2 separate regions of the Homo sapiens genome follow, and region 1 is linked to region 2. Evidence: fine-mapped expression QTL. Tissue or cell type: fibroblasts. Region 2 holds a variant in brackets; the other region holds the start of a gene. All regions are shown on one strand. Distances are from middle to middle.

What was found. PIP is the estimated chance that this variant, and not a neighbour inherited with it, causes the effect. A credible set is the group of variants that fine-mapping cannot tell apart.
Region 1: GSN starts here. The variant in region 2 is the best candidate, but not a certain one, in a credible set for the expression of GSN in fibroblasts (GTEx, PIP 0.65).

What each region holds. Positions count from the first base shown.
Region 1 is chr9:121,265,848-121,271,215 of GRCh38, reverse strand. It overlaps GSN (gelsolin), which reads right to left and starts at 3,054. Exons shown (of 18, transcript NM_198252.3): 1 at 2,997-3,054. RefSeq lists a silencer at 2,867-3,166.
Region 2 is chr9:121,563,209-121,568,576 of GRCh38, reverse strand. LOC107987016 (a long non-coding RNA gene) reads left to right here and starts at 1,593. Exons shown (of 2, transcript XR_001746560.2): 1 at 1,593-1,726. It also overlaps a transcript of DAB2IP not described here. The variant G/CCACCAGGG (reference allele first, on the strand shown) is at 2,506.

The sequences.
Region 1 (5,368 bases), 300 kb after region 2:
CGTATTTTCAGTAGAGACAGGGTTTCACCATGTTGACCAGGCTGGTCTCAAACTCCTGGCTTAAGCCATCAACCCAACTCGGCCTCCCAAAATGCTGGAACTGCAGGTGTGAGCCACCATGCCCAGTTAAAAGATAGCTTTTTATTATTATCATGCAAACCAACATCTCTCCATTTTACACATGAGGAACCAGAGGCTCAGAGAGATAGGATTTGCCCAAGGTCACCCAAAGAACCAAGACTGGGGGTCCATTTCCAAGTCAGTGCTTCTAACTTCTCTCACACCTGTGGTCTCTGATAAGCAAATATACACACCCAGAGGCCGCAGACACAGGATGTAAAAGTTTTCTTAAAGAAAACCAGAGCTCAGTGTCTCAGCAACGTACCATAGACCAAGCAGAAATCATCTCTATGACCCACATCACAAATGACCCAAACTATTCACATGGAGTAGGGGAAAGTGACCCACTGTCACTGGATGGCTAAAAGTGAAGGCATCCAATCAACGTGTTTGGCAGGAGTGCACACACCATTGTTAACAGTGGCGACCTCTGGGGAAAGAGGCGGGCTTGGAGGGATTCTTTAACAATTTTTGTTTGTTTTAAAACTCATGAAAAAGAAAAAAAAGTTACAATGCTGAATACCTTAGCAACCTTCTCCAGTAGGTCTAGCCTGTTGTCTGCTTTTAGATGAAATTTATAGCAGGTTCTGAGACCTTCAGCTGGGCTTCCAGAATCTGCTGCTCTGACCCATCCCAGTGGCCACTGCTCTAGTTCAGACCTGCAATCTACTTCACTTGAATCATGCAACAGCCTCCTCAGGGCCTTCCTGCCTCCAGATCAGCCTCGTTCAATGCATCCCCTACATCAGCCATTCAGAATAACGAGTTTTTAAAAATCACTGCTCTGTCAAAACCCTTTCTCAGCTCTTCATTGCCTTCAGGATGAGGTCCAAACCCTTAGCTTATAATCTAGTTCCATTTTCATTTAGATTCTCAACCTCCCACCACCCCGCCCTTCTCCCATCCTCCACTCTAGCCACATGGATGGCTCAGAAAATCTCAGTGCCTTTGCACTAGTGGTTCCTGCTTCCCAGAATGTCTTTTCCCCCAACTCCTGTTTCTCCTGGTAAATGATTATTCATTCTGAGGTCTGGCTCACCTAGACAAAATTAGTCACTCCTCTTGCAGGCTGAAGTCACTCTTAATATGGCACAAAAGTGTCAAACAGTATAGATGGCAAGCATCTTGAGGACAGAGAGCTCTGTCCTCTTCCAAGGCTCTTTGGCCCCTCGCAGGGCAAGGCACAGAACACAGGCCCAGAGAAGTGCTGAAAGGAGGGAGGCGGGGAGGAAGGAAATGCCATGCGGGGCAAACCCTGCAGCCACCCCTCCTGGGAGCAGCCTGTTTCCAGGCTCATGTTAGTCCCTAATAAAAGGACTGTGGAAAATTCTGGAGTAAACTTTCCTCCCCTGATTCACACAGAAACCTTCTTTGCTGCTGTGTAACTCACCGAGTGCCAACCCAAGCTCCCCTGGCTGTTTACAATTTCCCTGGCATTTATAAATAGCATGGCCCCAGAAAGAAAAATGGAGTTTCAAAGGAGCTGAAAGCCGACCGTTCCCACCCCCATCCTTCCTCCTCTGTTTCCAAGCCTCTCCCCCTTAACAGCCCCAAGAAACACCAACCAGCACCCCCAAGTGTGTATGTACAGGGAATGCTTGTCCCTTTAGTAAACGGAACACCCAAGAAGGAGGCTAGAGTCCCTCCCAGCAAGGAGTCCGCAAACGGCAGACCGGAATTGGGTCTCAGCCCTACCCTGCCTCACTGTGTGACAATTAGCCCATCATAAACTCTCTGGGTCCTTGACTTTTCTCAACTGTGAAATGGAGGAAATGGAGATGGGGTAAGATTCTAGCAAGCTATGGTCGCTGTAAACGGCAGAGCGGTGAGAGGTCCTGGTGCCCTGGTCAGAAATGTGGTCCTGGGAGAACAGGACACACAGGATTAAGTGTTTGAAAAGTCCCCAGATGCCAAACAAAAGCGAAAGGCACCTCCCCAGAGGCCCCGCCTTCCACAAAGTCCAATTACCCTCAGGACAGCCCAGAATGAGTTCTGGGTGTTTTAAAGCTCCCTTCCATGCTCTGAGGAGGGTGTGAAGACAGGATAAAGCGACAGATGTCTGGGCAGACAAGGAGCTAGGAAGAAAGCCAATGTCTCCTGCTCACCCACACCCCCAGCCCCCAGCCTTCCAAGGACTGGGGCTTCCCCCTGGGCACTGCCCAGACCAGCCAGCCTGCACTGGACCAGAGGGAAGTTGCTGTTATTTAGGTTCTGGGGGGCTGGACCCCAGAAGACATGGGGGCTCAGGGAGAAGGGGTTCCAATCACTGTCTTCAACTCCAGAAGAAGCTTCCGTGTGAGTCAGGGAAGGGAACACTGCAGGGCCGGGGAGAAGCCAGCACCTACAGGTAGCAGGCGCCTGAAGATTTCAGACAGTGTAAGGAAGAACTTTCTAACAGTCCCCAGAAAGAGGAAGCAGCTGGAGAGGAGAGCAGGCACAGGTATCGTCCAGGAGGCAAGGGTCCTCTGAGTGGACTCCCCAGCAGAGTCACCGCCCAGACCGTAGCTGGTGGTCCCCTGCATGCCCGGGTCAGACAACCCAAGTGCAGGGGTGACCCCGGGCCAGTTCCCCCATCCCGGGGGCGGGGTCGAGGTTATTAGCTCAGGTGCTAGCAGCACAGTGGAATCACGGGGTGGAGGCCTGGCCCCTCTCCTCTCCTGCTCCGGCGTCTCCCCATCCCCCAACTCCCATCCACACTCTTTGGTCCCTTGGAAGACGGGAAAAGTGAGCGAGGAAGCCCTTTTCCAGCGATGCCCCCGCGGCCGGGCCGAGCTCCAGGCGCGGGCGAGATAGGACCGGGAAGGAAGGGAGAGGAAGGACTCAAATCAGCCCGGGACCCCCAGATGCCCGGGGCCGGGGCCGCGCGCCTCCCCTACCTGCTGCTGCGGCACTGGAGACAGCGGCTGCTGGGTCCAGCTGCGCTCAGCTGGTTCCGGGCGGCGGGGCGGGGGCGTTGTGGTGCGCGCGGCCGGGGTGGGCAGGGCGCGGGCGGGAGCCGCCCTCGGGGCGGGGCGGCCGGGCAGGCGGGTGGGGGAGGAGCGCCAGGCCCTCCCGTCGGCTGCTGGGCGGGTGGCTCCAAGCTCGCCTTCGTCCAGGGGGACCCCTCGCTTCACCTCGCAGGAAGGCACCAAACCAAGCCCTCTGCTTTCCCCTGGAGGAAACTGAGGCCCGGAGCACGGAGGGGAGATCTGAAGAGGCCTAGGGTCGGGGAGGAGACCCAGGGCAGCTCCTGAGCTGGGCTGGGGCCAAAGAGCTCAGATGGGACGGGCAAGCGAGCAATGCTCAACTAGCACCAGCGGAGGCAGATTTCAGCCCTGGAGAGAACGGACTTCAGGAGGCAAAGCCCTCGAAGAGTGACATAGGCTGCATGCAAAGCAGGGGAGATTCCCTCCCACGGAAGGGAATAAGGAGGAAGAGCGATTCCCAGCTCATTCCGAATGAAGTAACGAAAATGCCAAGTGCATCCCTGGTCCTTAAAGTGGACCATTAAGCAGGCGCCTCGGAGTCAGAAGGCCTGGTTTGGAACCCCAGACATCGACTAGTCCTGTAACTTTGGGCAAGCGAGCTCACATGTCTAAGTCTCCGTTTCCTCGTTTGTCAAATGGGCATCCTGAATTGCCGCTTCATGGGGCGGTTGAGAAGACTCAGTGAGAAAAAGACTCTCAGCACAATGACAGGGACCGTGGCTTCTGCATAAACGGAAGGGATGTTCTTATTAGTGTCATGGCAGATACTGTTTTAGGAGATTGAGGAAATCCACATTGGGTAGAAAGATGAGTGCAAGGTCAATTTTAAGCAAATGTAATACTTTGTTGATTTCAACAACATCTCATATGCATTTGAGACGATAGCCGTTTATAATGCAGCAAGGCATAAGACGGCCTCCCAGCAGTCCTGGTGCACACATGAGTTCCCAGGACTTTTGGAGTTGCCGCGTGACTCCGGTTTGGAAGGATTCACACACTCCACAGGAGACTGCACCACATGACAGAGATGTCCATTCCCAGCCTGGGTGCTGGCAGCAGCCCCATGTTCAGCCAGGGTAAAGCTCCCTCTTAACACAAGGTAAAATGTACTAGAGTCAGTAATTGCCGGGTGCTGGGGATCAGAGCAGAAAAGGCTGTTGTTTAAGTAGCACAGAAGCCAAGAGCACAGTGCTCACTCCCTGGTTTTTCCATTGAATAGCAGCCAGGGAAGCCACAGGACCCAGGGAATCTCACCCTGGCTCTTCCTCCTGCCATTCTCTCTTTGTTCAACACCAGTAAATACAAGAACCATTTCTTGAATGCCTCATGCCATGCTCTGGGCTTCCCACGTATTACCGACTTTAATTCTCACCTCCCTACCTGGCCTCCTAAGGGAGGCATTACCATGTGTATTTTTCAGATGAGCAGGCCAAGCCCACAGAAAGGGTTAAGTACTCTCTGGAGGTCACACTACTGATACTGTGCAGTCTACTCTTCTATGCCTGAGTCCTTGGCCCTCGCTTCTTTGCTCAATGTCTTATGTCACACTCTGCCACCTTTCCTGGCTTGGGAAATTCTGCCCAGTTCCACTTTCTCTGAGAATACAAGCAAGGTATCCACCCCGCAGGGAGGCTCACACCATCTCTGCTACTCTCTGCTTTCTCCAGAGGCTGCCTGGGGCCCAATGCAAGGCTGCTGGGGAGAAAAGCAAAAACACAGGCTTATTTGGCTCTGGAATCTTTGATTACAAGCCCCGGCATACACATGCCTTGGAATTATCTAACATATCATTTCCAGCCCCAGCAACTGCTCTCAGACAAAGGGAGGTGGAACTCTGAATCTGTGTCCCCATAGAACTGGAGAATACCACATCACGATGGAGGAAACATTGGAGAATGTCTGCTCCAACTCCTCCCTTTAGAGATGGAGAAACTGAGGCCAGGAGAGCAAAAGGGTTCACATTCTAAGCTAGATCTAAGGTTCCATATTCTAAGCTGGGTCAGATGCCTACCCATAACCCTGTAATTGCTCCATTTGGTGGCTGGAGAGGAACATGGGAACAGGGTATCACCAGGAATCATTAGAAATGATAATGAAGATAATGATGATGATGATTGATTGATGATGATTGTGATGATGATAACCAATACTTACATGGGAGTGCTCCTCTAGGAACACTTCTAGAAATCTCCTGGTGCTTTGCTTTATGACTCAACATGTGTATTTTATAGCTGGCAGGATATATCAAGTCTGCCTTTCATGGATGCCTAGAAGTCTTCTTG
Region 2 (5,368 bases):
TTTGTCTGTCTCCCATTCCAGACTGGGAGCTCTTCCAGGCCAAGGGCTGCTCTCCCTATTTTTTTCCCTCTCTCCTCCCTTTGTATTCTCCTCCTCCTTCCATTCACTAAGCACCAACTATTTGTTAGGACTGAGTTCCTCATTCCTACACATCCCTGACCCTGACACAGGGCTTGGCACATGGAGGTCACTCTGCATGCATCAACTGACCCCCCGTCCCCTGGGCCCAAAGATGCCAGGTCTGTGGGCTGGGCCTTGCCAAGCTTCCCTGAGGGCTGCAGCTCCAAACGTGGCAAAGGGCCCCTCTCCTTGGAAAGGGCTGAGCTCCTGCAGGAGGAAGGAAATTTGGCCTTGAATCTGTGCCAGGCAGCCAGGCCTGGATGGGGTGGGGGAAAGTCCGGAGAAACAAGCACTTGGTTTTCTTAGTAGAACTGTGGTCTCAGGAGGACCTGAACCCCTGGAAGGCTGACCTGACCCAAGCTGGGATGAGGTCGCCCTGCAATTACCACCTCTTCCGAGGCCAACAGGACTTCTCCCTGCTGAGTCCCAAAACCTGCTGCCCCACCCCCCCATGCCCAGCCTCGGTGCCTCGGCCACACTCTTGCACTCTTGCGTCCCTCCTTGGTTGTCCAGAGACAGCCAGGCTGTGCCGGGCATCCCAGCCAAATGTGAGCTCTCTGGCCAGGCTGAGTAGTGCAGGAGCTGAGTTACTGCGTCGCTGGAGCCCCAGGCCTGCAGAAACCACCACGAAGGAACCCTTCCGAGTCTTATAAATCCCTCTTCCAGACTCTGCATGGGCTCTGTCCCGAGCAACTTTTCCCCCAATAATGCATGCAGAGCTTCCAGTGGCCTGGGCAGCTCTCCGGTGGCAGCCACTGGGGCCCTGTCACACGGGGAGTGCTTTCAGCATGAGCCCTGGCCTTTAATTACAAGGTATGTTCCTGTTGCCTCTTCCATCTATATTTATCCGCAGGATCGCACTAATTGAATTCCCCACAGCACAGGGCAGGCCTGGCGAACAGCGAGGTAGGCAGACAGGCAGGGGGGCTGCAAAACTTCCTTCCTTTCCTTCTTGGCCAGGAGCAAAACAGAAGCAGCTGAGAAACTCTCTCTCCCTCCCCTGGACCTTGTCAATGCCTGGAGTCTGAGGGGCTGCCCGCTCCAGGGACCCTCCAGCCCTGAGTCTCATAGCCCAACGCACCCATGCCCACCCATGGGTCCCAAGACCAGACAGTGCCCAGATGCCTGACTGCCTCCCTGCTTCAACTCAGATTCCTATAGCAGAGAAAAGTCTGTTGAGCAGAGAGGCTGAAACCCCCAACTCTGCACTTTGCTGGCACCGTCTTACCGTAGGAGTCGTCTTGGTCCAGAAGGGAGTCGGGCTCCATGGCGTGTGGGCCCCCAGCCCCTGGCCCCACCTGATTTATGAACCGAGGCTGTCTCCATGAGCGTCTGGGTTCCTCCTTTTGTATTCCATCTGGCGGCTTTTCCAACTAGATGACTGGGTATTCCTGCAAGCAGGCCCCTTTCCAGCCCTCGCCTTCATACAGTACATTTAAAGTAGCAGTAACCTCTTTTTCCTCCCCCCGCAGCCTGGCTGGAAACATTAGAAGGGACTGAGGCAGCGAGATGTCTAAAATAGGAAGACGCCGGGACGGTTGGCCTGGCTGCCCGTGATGCTGGCTGCGGGGATCTGGCCCGGCTGTGCAGATGGAAAAGCTAAGAGGTGAGGCTGAGACGGGCTTAGCATCTGGAAGCCGGCTCTGGGGCCCAGGGGGTTTGCAGGAAGCGGGGAGCCCAGCCCCCCAGGGGAGGGGTTGGGGGGTCTGCTCTGTTTACCCCCAGTGCCCAAACCCCAAGGGCTTCTCCCAGGCCCTGCTGGAACCTCCCACTCAAATCTGTTCTACAGACATTTCCCGCAGTGTGGGGGATGCAGAAATTGACTCATCCATCCATTCAGTTAGTCACTAAATGTTTTTTGAGCATCTAGTCTGCACCAGACACCGTGCCCGGTGCTGAGTTTGCAGCAGGGAGCGAGGCACAGTGCCTGGCTTCTTGGAGCTCACAGGAAAGCAGGTCATTGCAGCGCAGTGTGTGGTGCAAGAGCTGCAGGAACAGAGAAGGGGCGCCTCACCTGGATGGAAGAGGTGGTCGGGGAAGGCCTCCTGGAGGAATGGGCACGTAAGCTGGGGCCTAAAGGACGAGAAGGAGTTAGCCAGGTACAGAAGGAGGGAGTGACCTGTGCAATAGCCCTGAGGTGAAAGGGTGCGTGGGGCGTTCAGTGCCCCCCCGAATAAGTTCCAGGTGGTTGGAGTAGAGCAAATGATGCGAGGCTGGTGAGAGATGGGACGGGGGAGCCAGGGAGAGAGGCAGGAGTGGGTTGGACAGAGCCTTTGGGGATGACTCCAGGCCTGCCTGGAGGAGGGTCTGTGAGAATGACATGATCCGGATTGTCCTCTGGGAAGGCCTCCCTGGTGACCTTGTAAAAGAGGGGAAGCCACCAGG[G/CCACCAGGG]GAGAGGGAGATGCAGGCTCCACGGCCACAGCTGTAGGAACCCTGGGTGCTATTTATTAAGCAGGCACCAGAGGTGAGCACCATTTCAAGTATTTGCCCACATTGTCTCATACATTCCTCACTATGGTCCCTTCCAGGAGAAACTCTGGTTCTCCTATTTTACAGACGGGGACAATGCAGTTTAGAGAGGTGATGTGACTTGACCAAGGCCACAGTTGTGAGTGACCACCAGGGCAGGTCTGGACCCCAGAGAGTGCACAGCCTTGGTGCTGGGATGGTGGGGAGGACAAAGATGCATCTCAATCAATCTGCATTCAATCTGCATCTCCTAGGCGGGCGTGGTGGCTCACACCTGTAATCCCAGCACTTTGGGAGGCTGAGGCGTGCGGATCACCTGAGGTCAGGAGTTAGAGACCAGCCTGGCCAACATGGTGAACCCCCATATCTCTACTAAAAATACAAAAAATTAGCCTGGTGTGGCGATGCGTGCCTGTAATTCCAGCTACTTGGGAGGCTGAGGCAGGAGAATCACTTATATCCGGGAGGCGGAGGTTGCAGTGAGCCAAGATCGTGCCACTGCACTCCAGCCTGGGCGACAGAGCGAGAGTCCATCTCAAAAAAAAAAAAAAAAAAAAAAAATCTGCATCTTCCTCTCCCACAAGCCCACCCAAGCCACAGGGCAGTACCGTGGGCTTATGGGAGACAGCTTCATTTGGGCTCAACCAGGGAAGGCTGCCGAGAGGAGGAGGTGTTTGAACTGGGCAGAGAAAGAAGAGCAGAATTTGATGGGCCAAGCAGGGAAAAGTGAGGGCGTCCCAGTTAGAGGGAATGGCACAAGCAAAGGCGTGGAGGCAAGAAGGTAACACACAATGGAAATGACAGGTGACTGGGAGGAAGTCAGGGCTGATAAGCAGGTTTGGGCTAGATCAAGAAAGGGCCTGGAGTGCCAGCCTGGGGGTGTGGGCGTGTTCCAGAGGGTGACACACAGCCCCAGCAGGCATTTGTTCCAGGGAAATGACCTCCTTCTCAATGGCTGCCTGGGAGCTCCTGCAAGCGGCTCCCCGCAGCCTTCTTAACGCTCTGCTCTGAAAGCAGGAGAAATCCTCTATCCCCACAGCATGGCTGGAACACTAGAAGCCAAGCCTTGGTGACCTGGTTTTTGGAGACATGGCTCTGGTGCTGGGGTGGAGGAGACATTTAGAGAAGGGAGATACAGGGAGACAGGGAGTGAAGGCAGGAGGCTAACAGGAGGGTCCAGGCCAGGGGTGGCAGAGAGGTAAGAACCCACCGGGCTTGCTCCTGGCCACCCACTGCTGCCCAGAGCAGCCAGTGGCTGCTGACGTGGTTGGCCTGGCTACAGGGAGGTTCCTTCAGTCACTCGTCACCCCTCCTCCCCAACCTCGGATGACAGGGATCCCAGCTCCCAACCTCCCGCTGCCTTAATTACAGGGAGACTGGCCCTACCCAGGCTAGCTGCAGGCACCAGGCTCCCTGGCTCTAATCAGTGGGTAGGGCAGACTGGGGGTTGAGGAGGCAGAAGGGGGAAATCAGGTCCTTGGACCACTAGCCAGTGGACGGATTCAGGTCCAGGTCTCCCTAGTCCTCCAAGGCCCCAGGGGATCTGCGTGTCCATTTGTACATATGCACACGTGGTCTCTTTTCAGATAGAATGTGGTGGTTAGCAGGATGGGGCTGAAATTGACCATCTGGATTTATATCCAGGCTCTGCCACCAACTAGCTGGGTGCCACTCGGTGAGTTACTCAACTCTTGTGAGTCGCGTTGGCAGAATGGGGCTACTCAAGCCCTTACTTCAGATAGTTATTGTGCAGATGAAATGGGGTAATGTGCATCAAAGTCTTAGGGCAGGTCTGGGTGTGTCCTAAGCACTCAGTAAAGGGCACTGCTCTTCCTCATACAAATTTTATCATCTCCCCAGCTTAGTAAAGGAAGCGTGGGAGAACATGGGCCCATTTTACAGATGAGGAAACTGAGGCTCCAAAAGAAAGGACTCAACTTGAGGGTCTACATGGAGGCTCAGGATGCACCCTTCACTCGGCTGGCTGTACCCCCAGAACCTGCTGAGAGCAGAAGTAGTGGGAAGAAGATCTGGACCCCAACTCTGGCTGTGCCTCTAGGCAGTGCTGTGACCTAGGGAGAGGGTCTTGCTTCCCTGGGCCTCACTTTCTTCACCAGTCAAGGTACAGACTTGGATGACCCTGACAGTTCCCACCTCCCAATCCATTTCCCTCTTGTTATGAATTAGACATGTTTAAGTACAACCAGAGCTCCTACCCTCCAGGGATTAATCGTATTGAACATCGGGCACTAGGCTCTGCTTCCCTCCCTTTATGATAAGAGACCCATCTATTTAGTGGCTGCGTAACATTCCACCCTTTGGCTGTGTCACACCTGCTTTGAGCCAATCCCCTATTGATGGACACCTAGGTTGCTGCCAGTAGTCATGATGACAAGCAACGCTGCAAGGACTATCTTGACTGTACTTCTGTGGGCATCTGTCTACTGATCTCCTTAGGAGAAAACCCTAGACATCAACTTGCTGGGTCAAAAGGCGCCTGTGTTTGCAAAATTCCCAGTGTGGCGGCAAAGCGCGTGCAAGCCCCCTCTGTTCTTTTATTCATTCCACCAGCTGTTGTTGAGTCTGATTTTGTGCCCGGCCCTGTAGAAGGCCTGGGATGGTGGGTGTCCCTGCTCCTTTGAATTTCCACCCTAGCTGGGGGGAGACACGCACGCTGTCTGGTAGAAAGGAGTGCTATTCAGAGAATTACATGGGGGCTGCACAACAGAGCAGGTGATATCCAAGCAGCAACCTGCCAGGCAAACAGAAGCCAGCCATGCAGAGT